2 linked regions of the Homo sapiens genome follow. The protein of the gene in region 1 interacts with the protein of each later gene in a pairwise test. Each region holds a gene or a part of one and is shown in the gene's direction. Other genes may lie near its edges.

Region 1 (4,589 bases):
GTCGTAGCAGGCTCGTGTGACAAAATAACCGGCTGACCTTTCTAAAGTGAATCAGGTCTGGCTTGGGCGTCAGCCACCGCTACATCCCAGTCTGTGGCTGACGGGGCCCAGGCAGCCAGCGACCACAGGGGGTGGCTCAGCTCACTTCCTAGGCCTCCCTGAGGCTGGTGGGCAGCTGCTGCGTGCAGAGGAATCCATGAGCGAGGGTGGGACGCAGGCATCACTGAGCGGTTACCAGCCACACTACTTCTAGCCCGGGGGTCTCGCCAGGCTTCGGGGCACTCTGAGATAGCTCTGCCCCCCACCACTTTGGGGACCCCAGTCTAATAAAAGGTGCTCTCTGGGGCTGCTTTGACCTGGAGGTGTTCTTGTTTTCCACAGCGGGTGTCATCCTAATTGTGAGTCACGGCTCCACTCTGGACTCCTGCACGCGGCCACTGCTCGGGCTGCCGCCCCGGGAATGTGGGGATTTTGCCCAACTCGTGAGAAAGGTACGCGCCCACTCTTGGCTCTTTGGGCCACAAAATCAAGCATCCCGAAGACACAGGTTTATCTCATCCACTTCTCGGAATGAAAACAAGTGTCCGGCTGACCCAGGGCCACCAGGATCCACGTGCCCCCGGAGACTGTGCCCACCGGCTCTTATGCGAAGGGTGACTTCGGGCTGGGGCTGGTGGATAGGTCAGTCAACCTCATCATCATTGGCCACTTGCCAACTTTTTACCAGTCAGCTCATGCCATGACCCCTTGCAGCTCTCGTAGAAAAACAGACGGTCCAGGAAGGAGTAAGCAGTTTAGATGAGGAGGGAAGAAACGACTGTGGGACTCGATTCTGGCCTCTTCTGGGGACCTGGGGCAGGGCGGCTGATGGATGAAAAGGAGCCCCTTGATCCTCTTGCCCTTGGAGTCACCCAGCATGGAAGAAGCTTGAGCTGGTTGTAGCTGCCAGAGTGCTCAGGCTCTGGCAAGGGCCTTGTGAATGACAAACAGAGGATAACGCACACGTGACATCTTGGACAACCTTGATTATCACTCAGCAAAGCCAGAGGGTGATGTCCAGTCCATGGGTGAATTGAGGCAGGCAAACTCAGGAGTGCAGATCCCACCCCAGTCCCAGCCCTTCCCTGCAGATCTACTCAAGGCTGGACTCACCACAGTCCTGACCTTTTTATGAAATTCATCAGTCCACTGGTCAGTGCCCAGGCAGCACGTGCAGCATAGACAATGCCTGTCATCGGAGGTGCTTGAGGCCCTGACCTGGTTTCTTCACATAGCACTGCCACAGGACCACACTGGCCACAGCTTGTTTGCCATAAGTTGTGGGCAGCAGTGGGGGTTGCTGAGTCCCCCCAAGAGGTCAGGGGCTTCAGAGGAGCCCAACTCCCGGGCCCAGCCCAGTGACACCAGCCAGGTGCCTGCAGGAGGGCTTAGCTCTCTAGCTACGCCTGCCTCAGCAGCCAGATGAGAGGTTACGCACATGAAGAGCATGCCTGCCGTGGGTCATTGTCACTCAGCAATTAGGCATCAGACACCCGAATCTCCCTTTCTTGCTCCATTTTCCTCTGCACCTGAGTAGAAACATGCTTCCCCTGCAAAATGTCTCCAGGGTGGTGTGTCCCAATTATGATCCAGACATTTCCGAGCGCCCTGGATTCTTGAGCCACCAGGTGAGCATTGTCCAAATAGGGCAGCTCAACCCCCCTGGGCCACACTGGTAGAGGTCTGCATGGATTTTCCTGGGGACTGTCCGGGGCAGCCCCGGCACCACCTGCTCCCAAAATGTTGCTCTTGCTTCTGCAAATGGGTCTCCCACACATGCGCTCTGATGCATTCCTCCTGTCCCTGCCCCGCTTCCCACAGTCCCATATACACATACCAAGCCTCCAGCCCCAGGCGCTCCTGGGGGCCCACGTAACCAAGGGTGGCAGCACTGCACACACCAGCTGCTGACAGTTCCTCAAACCCATGAGCCTTTGTGGCCAAAGCTCCACCCACTCCTTGGACCCTTCACCCCCTTCCATAGATGCCAATCTTGAACTTCCAAACTCCTGGACTTTCTTATGCTGGTCACGTGGCGTTCACCCTGCCCCTACCCCAAAATAAGCTGGACTTGCTCATGCATATCAGAAAATACAAAGGGGGGGCTCTACCAAATGATGGGCCCCCAAATCAGGGCAGCTGGAAAGGGAGCACTCAGGACCCTCCCCGACCAGCCCATCACCGCCCCTCGCCCACAGCCTCTGCAAGCGTGAGGAAAGAATCACCCTAGGGTCAACACCAGCCTCACTCAGACCCCCCTGCCAGTTGGCATTTTTGTAAATTTCATCTGCCTGAGGAATTTCTAGACATTAGAAAGAGGAAGGAAAGAAAGAAAAGAAAAGACAAAAACAAAAAAGGCTTCACCACAAAGCTCTGTTCTCACACATCCATTTCACAGATGAAGGGATGGAGGTCTAAAGGTTCACTTTGTGCTTTTCTTTTGGGTCTGAAAACTCAATGTCTGTGTCTTTTTGTGATGCTGAATATGAGAATATGAGTCACTCCTTAAGTGGTGGATGGCAATCTCCACCTCAGCCTGCAGACCTTTGTGGTGGGGGCTGTTCTACTCATTGTAGGATGTACCACCTTGTAGGACCTCTACCTGCTAGGTGTCGGCAGCACCTCCATCCTCAGTTGTGACAATCAGAAATGTCTCCGGAATTACCCAGTGTCCCCTGGCTAGGGGACATCCCCCACGGGGCACCGCCAGGGCAGATGTTGGTGCCATTCAATGGTGGCAGTGCCAGCCTGGGCAGTCGCAGACCCTCCAAAGTAGAGGTGTGCCTGACAGTTGGCTTTGGAGCTAGTCTGAAATTGATGGACTTGCTATAAGATATTAACAAGTGATTTAAAACTCTGTTCCAGATCCCTTCCCTGGGCATGTGCTTCTGTGAAGAAAATAAAGAGGAAGGAAAATGGGAGTTGGTGAACCCACCGGTGAAGACCCTGACCCACGGGGCGAACGCAGCATTTAACTGGAGGAACTGGATCTCAGGCAACTGAGAGCCACGGTGATGTTGTCATAACCTCAGAGTGGAGAGGCAGAAACCATGTGCAGAGGCTGGGAGATGCTGCTGTTTCCAGAGGCGTCTTAGTCTCACCCAATGTGATTTGTAGAAGCACGAGACGCACTTTTATATCCCGGAATATTTCCCTCCGGCTTTCGCCTTTGTAACTCCCATCTGTGGACCCATCGTCCACCAGCCCAGCTGCGGGGAGCACAGGGCAGGTGGCTGGGTGAGGATGCCGCCCTGCAGCATGTACACCGAGTGTCTGCAGCTGGGGACACAACTGCCCGGGACTCTAACTTCCAGGAATTAAAGACTCACCACACACGAAGGATCTAACCACTTCATTTTCCATGGTCTAATCATTAAATTCCCAATCGTTTTTTCTTTTTCTGGGTCCATCACTCTTTAGCCATATCCACATGGGCTAAAACAGGTGTAATAGTCAATAAAATGGTCCCAGAAAACCATCGACCAGGTCAAAACTGGGTTGCTGCTCCGTGCTGTCAACATTCATGTTACTATGTCTCTGTGGTTGCTGTAACCAATGACCACAAACCTGGGGGTCATGGAAAGAACACAAACTTTACACACACACACACACACACACACACACAGGCACATACACACATGCACATATGCATACAAAGACAGGCACACACGAGCATGCACACACACAAACACGTGCACATACACATGCGCACACACATGCACACGCACATGCACACACACGCAGGTACACAAGCATGCAAACACACATACACATACAAACGCGTGCATGCATACATGCACACATGAGCACACAAACACATGCACACACTTGCACACATGCACACAAAGGCATACACATGCAATGCACACACACAAACACACATGCACACACAGGCACACACACGCTCACATGCACACACACACACGCTGACTCTCCTACGGTTCTGGAGGTTGGCATTTTCTCAGCAGGCTATGTTTCTTCTGGAGCCTCCAGGGGAGGATCCTTGCCTTTTCTCACTTTTAGAGGCCACCTGCATCCTCCCTCCTCAAGTACAGCGGCGTAGCAGCCTCCAAGCTCTCTCAGTCTCTGCCTTCACAGCCACATCGCCTTCTGCTTCTGACTCTCCTGCCTCCCTCCTACAAGGGCCCTTGTGTTGACACTGGGCCCACCCAATAACCCAGGATCAATTCTCATCTCAAGAGCCTTAACCACACATGCAAAGTCCCTTTTGCCACATAAAGTTGCATATTCCCAGGTCCCGGGGATTAGGACATGAACATCTTTGGGGGTTATCCTGTAGCCTGCCATAACATACCCCAATCCTTCCAAGCACAGCGGAGCTGCCCGTACAGGGCCTCGGACATAGGGATTTGAGACACTCCCCTTGCAGGCCTTTTTTGGCTTCTCCTATTCTTGTTTCTGATCACGTAGAGGAGAGAAGAGGACTTTGCCAGTGGGAGAAGTAGGCTCCCCCGATTTAATGGGGCCCCAAAAGAAGGGCCACGAGCAAAGTGGAGTCTGTCCATGATGGTGATGCTGAGGAAGCTGGT
Region 2 (4,947 bases), on another chromosome or scaffold:
TTGCCAGTATATAGAAAAACAGTTGATTCTTATGCTTGTATCCTGTGACATTGCTAAAATCATGTAGTAGTTTTAGGAGTTCTTTTTTGGATTCTTTGGGGTTTTCTACATAGACAACAATGTTGGTTGTGAAAAGGGGCCGTTTTATTTCTTCTTTTCCAGCCTGTATGGTTTTTCCCCCCTTCCTAGCCTTATTACACCAATGTATTGAACAGGACTGGTGACTGCAGACATCCTTCCCTTGTTCCTAATTTTATTGGGAAAGCAGTCAGTCATTCATTATGAAGTATGACGTTTGCTGTAAGTTTTCTGAAAATGCCCTTTCTCAGTTTAAAAAAATCCTCTTCTAGCTTGCAGAAAATTTTTATTATGAAAGTATGCGGAATTTTTTAATAATATGCCAGTTGGTATGCATAAGTGATTTTCTTCTTCAGTGGATTACATTGGAGACAGCCTTGAATCTGGGATAAACTCCCATTGGTCAGGGTATATTACTCTCATTATGAGTTGCTGAATTTGAGTTACTAATATTTCCTTAAGGATTTTTTATTTATGTTAATGAAGGATATTAGTCTGTGGTTTTCTTGTATTCTCTTTGGTTTTGGTATCAGTAATACTGACATCAGTTTATGAGATTAAAATTACAAGTATTTCCTTTTCTATTATTTTTTTAAGAGATTGTATAATAATTGGTGTTATTTCTTCTTTAAATGTGTGATAGAATTTGTCCTTGAAGCCATCCAGGTCTGGAGATTTTTTGCAGAAGATTTCTAATTACAAATTCAGTTTCTTAAAATAATTATAATAGGATTATTCATAGTTGTCTGTTTCATCTTGTGTGACTTTATGTAGTTTGTGTTTTTTGAGGAATTAGTCCATTTCATTTAAATTATCCAATTCATGTGTATGGAATTTATTATTGTGTTCACTTATCCTTTTAAGGAATTAGAGGTCTGTAGTGATGTCTCATCTTTCCTGATATCCCTTCTTTCCATTAGTAATTTATGTCTGCTGACTTTTTTTCTTGGTTAATTTTTCAGGAGGTTTTTCAATTTTTATTTTTTTCCAAGGACTGGCTTTTTATTTCATTAGGTTTTCTCTGTTGCTTTCTTGTTCTCAATTTCGTTGATTTCTACTCTTTATTATTTCTTTCTATTTACTTTAGGTTTATTTTGCTCTTCTTCTCCAGGTTCCTAAAGGTTGAGGCTTACATAATTGATTTGAGATCTTTCTAATTTTCTAATATAAACATTTAATGCTATAAATTTGCTTCAAAGTAGAGTTTTACATACATGCCAAAATTTTTGATATTTTGTATTTTCATGTTTATTTAGATCAAAGTATCTTCTAATTTCCAGAAACTTCCTTTTTGACTTATTATATAGAAGTACATTGTTTAACTTCCAGATGTTTGGAGATTTTTCTTGTTATCTCTTAATTACTTACTTTAGTTTAATTTCATTATAATCAGAGAGCATAATTTGTACTGGCTAGGCGTGGTGGCTCACGCCTGTAATACCAGCACTTTGGGAGGCCTAGGCGGGCAGATCACCTGAGGTCAGGCGTTCAGGACCAGCCTGGCCAACGTGGTGAAACCGCATCTCTACTAAAAATACAAAAATTAGCCGGACATGGTGGCATGAGCCTGTAATCCCAGCCACTCGGGAGGCTGAGGCAGGAGAACCGCTTGAACCCAGGAGGCAGAGGTTGCAGTGAGCCGAGAATGTGCCATCGCACTCCAGCCTGGGCAACAAGAGTGAAACTCCGTCTCAAAAAAAAAAAAAAAAAAGCATAATTTGTATGATTACAGTTCTCTTAAATTTGTTAAGGTTTGTTTTGTGATCCAGGATGTGATCTATCCTCATGAATATCTTGAGCACTTAAAAAGAATGTGTACTCTGCTGTTGTTGGTTGTAGCATTTCATAAATATCAATTCAAGCCAGTTAGTGGATGCTGTTCATTTTGCCTATATTGCTGATTTTTGTGTACAAAGTCTGCCAGTTACTGAGAAAGGAATGTTTAATTTTTCAGCAGTAAGGGTGGATATGCCTATATATCCCTTCAGTTGTTTGAGTTAGTGCATTTGTATTTTGAAGCTCTTTAATTATAGTTGTATATACATTTAGGATGCTTATGTCTTCTTGGTGATTGGGCATTTTATCATCATGTAATGTTCCTCTGTCCCTGGTAATTTTCTTTTCTCTGAAGTTTACTTTGTCTGATATTTATTTATTTTTTGAGGCAAGTCTCACTTTGTTGCCCAGGCTAAAGTTTAGTGGCGTGATTGTGGCTCACTGCAGCCTCAACCTCCTGGGCTTAGGTGATCCTCCTACCTCCACCTCCCAGCTAGCTGCGACTGCAGGTGTGTACCACCACGCCCGGTTAATTTTTTGTATTTTTAGTAGAGGTGGGGTTTGGCCATGTTTCCCAGGCTGTTCTGGAACCCCTGGCTTCATGATCTGCCAGCCTTGGCCTCCCAAAGTGCTGGGATTATATGGGCGTGGGCCACTGCGCCTGACCTTGTCTGATATTATATAGCCACTCTAGCTCTTTTCTTAAATATAACACCTTTATTGAGATATGTAATTCACATACCATACTATTCACCTATTTAAAGTGTACACTTTTAGGGTTTTCAGTATATTCAGAGTTGTGTAACCATCAACAAAATTGATTTTAGAACATTTTTCCCGCGCAAAAAGAAACCGTATGTTCATTAACAGTCACTTCCCATTCCTCCTTCCTTTTCCTAATCCCTCAGTCCTAGACATCCACTAATCTACTTTCAGCCTCTGTGGATTTGCCTCTTTTGGACACTATATAAATGGCGTGATACATTGTCTTTGTGACTGACTTCTTTCACTGAGCATAATTTTTTCAGTTTTCATCCATGTTGTAGCCTGTTTCAGGGCATCATTCCCCCCTACTTTTTTTTTTTTGCCAGATATTCCACTGTATGAACACATCATATTTACTCATTTATCAGTTGAATAATATTGCTGTGAACATTCATGTACAGTTTTTTGCATTGACATACTTTCATTTTCCTGGTATGTACCTAGGAGTGGAATTGTTGGATCACATGTTTAACCTTTTGAAGAACTGTCAGACTTTTCCAAAGTGGCTATACCATTTCACATTCTTTATATCCTAGCCAACACTTACTATCTTTTCTATTATAGCCATCCTAGTAGGTATATCTCATTGTGGTTTTGAATTGCATTTCAGTGATGGCTAGTTATGTTGAGCATGTTTTCATGTTCTTATTAGCCCTCTGGTTTTCTTTTGACTAATATTTGTACAGTATATCCTCTTTTCCATCCTTTTAACTTTTTTTTTGGAGGCAGGGTCACACTTTGTCACCCAGGCAGGAGTGCAGTGGCACAGCCAGGGTTGACTGCGCCCTCACCGTTCCGAGTAGCTGGGACTACAGGCATGTGCCACCACACCCAGCTAATTTTTAAATTTTTTGTAGAGACAGGGTTTTGCCATGTTGCCCAGGCTGGTCTTGAATTCCTGGGCTCAAGCAATCCTCCGATTTTGGCCTCTTAAGGTGCTGGGATTACAGGTGTGAGCCACTATGCCCGGCCTGTCCTTTTACTTTTAACCTACCCATATCATATTTAAAGTGAATTTTATATAAACAATGCATAGTTGGGTCCTCTTTTAAAATTCTGATCATCTGTCTTAATCTTATCTAAATATAAATGTCGAGGACATTTATATTTAGTGAAATTATTAACATGTTTGGATTTAGTTCTGCCATCTTATCATTTGTTTTCTTTTTGTTCCTTTGATATTCCTTTGTTTTGCCTTTTCTCTGTCTTTTGGGTTATTGAACACTTTTTAATTCATTTCAATTAATCTATTGTAGTTTTGACTATTATCTCTGTGCAGTTATTTTAGGGATTTATTAGGAATTACAATATATGTAAATTTTTAAGTCTACTTAAAATTGATATTTTTACAACTTCAAGTGAAATGTAGAAATCTGATCAATGTATAGGCCTTTTTAGCCTCCTCCCTTTTTCTTGTAGTTATATATTTGCCTGCATAAATTAAAAATCTCATTAGATAAATGTTATAATTCTTGTTTTTAAACATTAGACATTTAAAAGAACTAAGAGGAAAATAATTACCCAGATATTTACAATTTCAGTTGGTCTTCCTTTGTTCCTGATGTTCTAAGTTTCCTTCTGATAACACTTTGCTTCTAACTGAAGAGTATTCTTTATAATAAGTCTACTGGAAATAAGTTCTTCTTTCTCTTCAGCTGAGAATGACTTTTATTTCACCTTCATATATGAAACATATTTTTGCTGGATATAGAATTTTGGGTTGATAGGTCTGTTCTTTCAGCATTTTGAAAGTGTTGTTCTACTTTTTACTGGCCTTCATTTCTGTTGGGAAGCCTACAGTCATTCAAATTGTTCTCTATGAGTAATATGTCATTTTTCTCTGGCTGCTTTCAAGATTTTCTCTTTGTCTTTAGTTTTTGGAAATGTGACTACAACGTGTCTGGAGTTAGATCTTGTTGGAAACTCCTGCCTGGGGTTTCCTGAGGACTGGGAATGATGAAGACAAGGTTTCTTAGAAGGAAGCAAAGTGTTACATCATCGAAATGTATAAGTTTCAACTATTGAAGTTAAATATGTTTTTATATTATTGGATGACAAGTTAGAATGCGCTTGGGAGAATACACAAAATACAGTATTTTAGTCATTGTGAATATTGTGTCTTTTCGGTAGGGGACTCTTCTAAGGTATTCATAACGTAAACATACTAGAATATTTAAGAATATTGCCTGGCATGGTGGCATGCACCTATATAGTCTCAGCTACTCAGGAGACTGAAGTGGAGGGTCTTTGGAGTCCAGGAGTTCCAGCCTGGGTGATGGCAAGACCTCGCCTCTAAAAATAACTAAACTTAAAAAAATAATAATAAAT

The links.
Region 2: the proteins of UBASH3A (region 1) and FGFR1OP2 interact in binary tests that used the Homo sapiens proteins (3 or more experiments, as listed by UniProt).

The regions. Positions count from the first base shown.
Region 1 is NC_000021.9:42,444,153-42,448,741, forward strand, and holds the end of UBASH3A (ubiquitin-associated and SH3 domain-containing protein A), read left to right. Parts: intron 1-381; coding exon 382-491; coding exon of another isoform or gene 492-681; intron 682-2,904; coding exon 2,905-3,042; 3' UTR 3,043-3,532; downstream 3,533-4,589. UniProt on the Homo sapiens protein: Interferes with CBL-mediated down-regulation and degradation of receptor-type tyrosine kinases. Promotes accumulation of activated target receptors, such as T-cell receptors, EGFR and PDGFRB, on the cell surface.
Region 2 is NC_000012.12:26,944,091-26,949,037, forward strand, and holds part of FGFR1OP2 (FGFR1 oncogene partner 2), read left to right. Parts: intron 1-4,947. UniProt on the Homo sapiens protein: May be involved in wound healing pathway.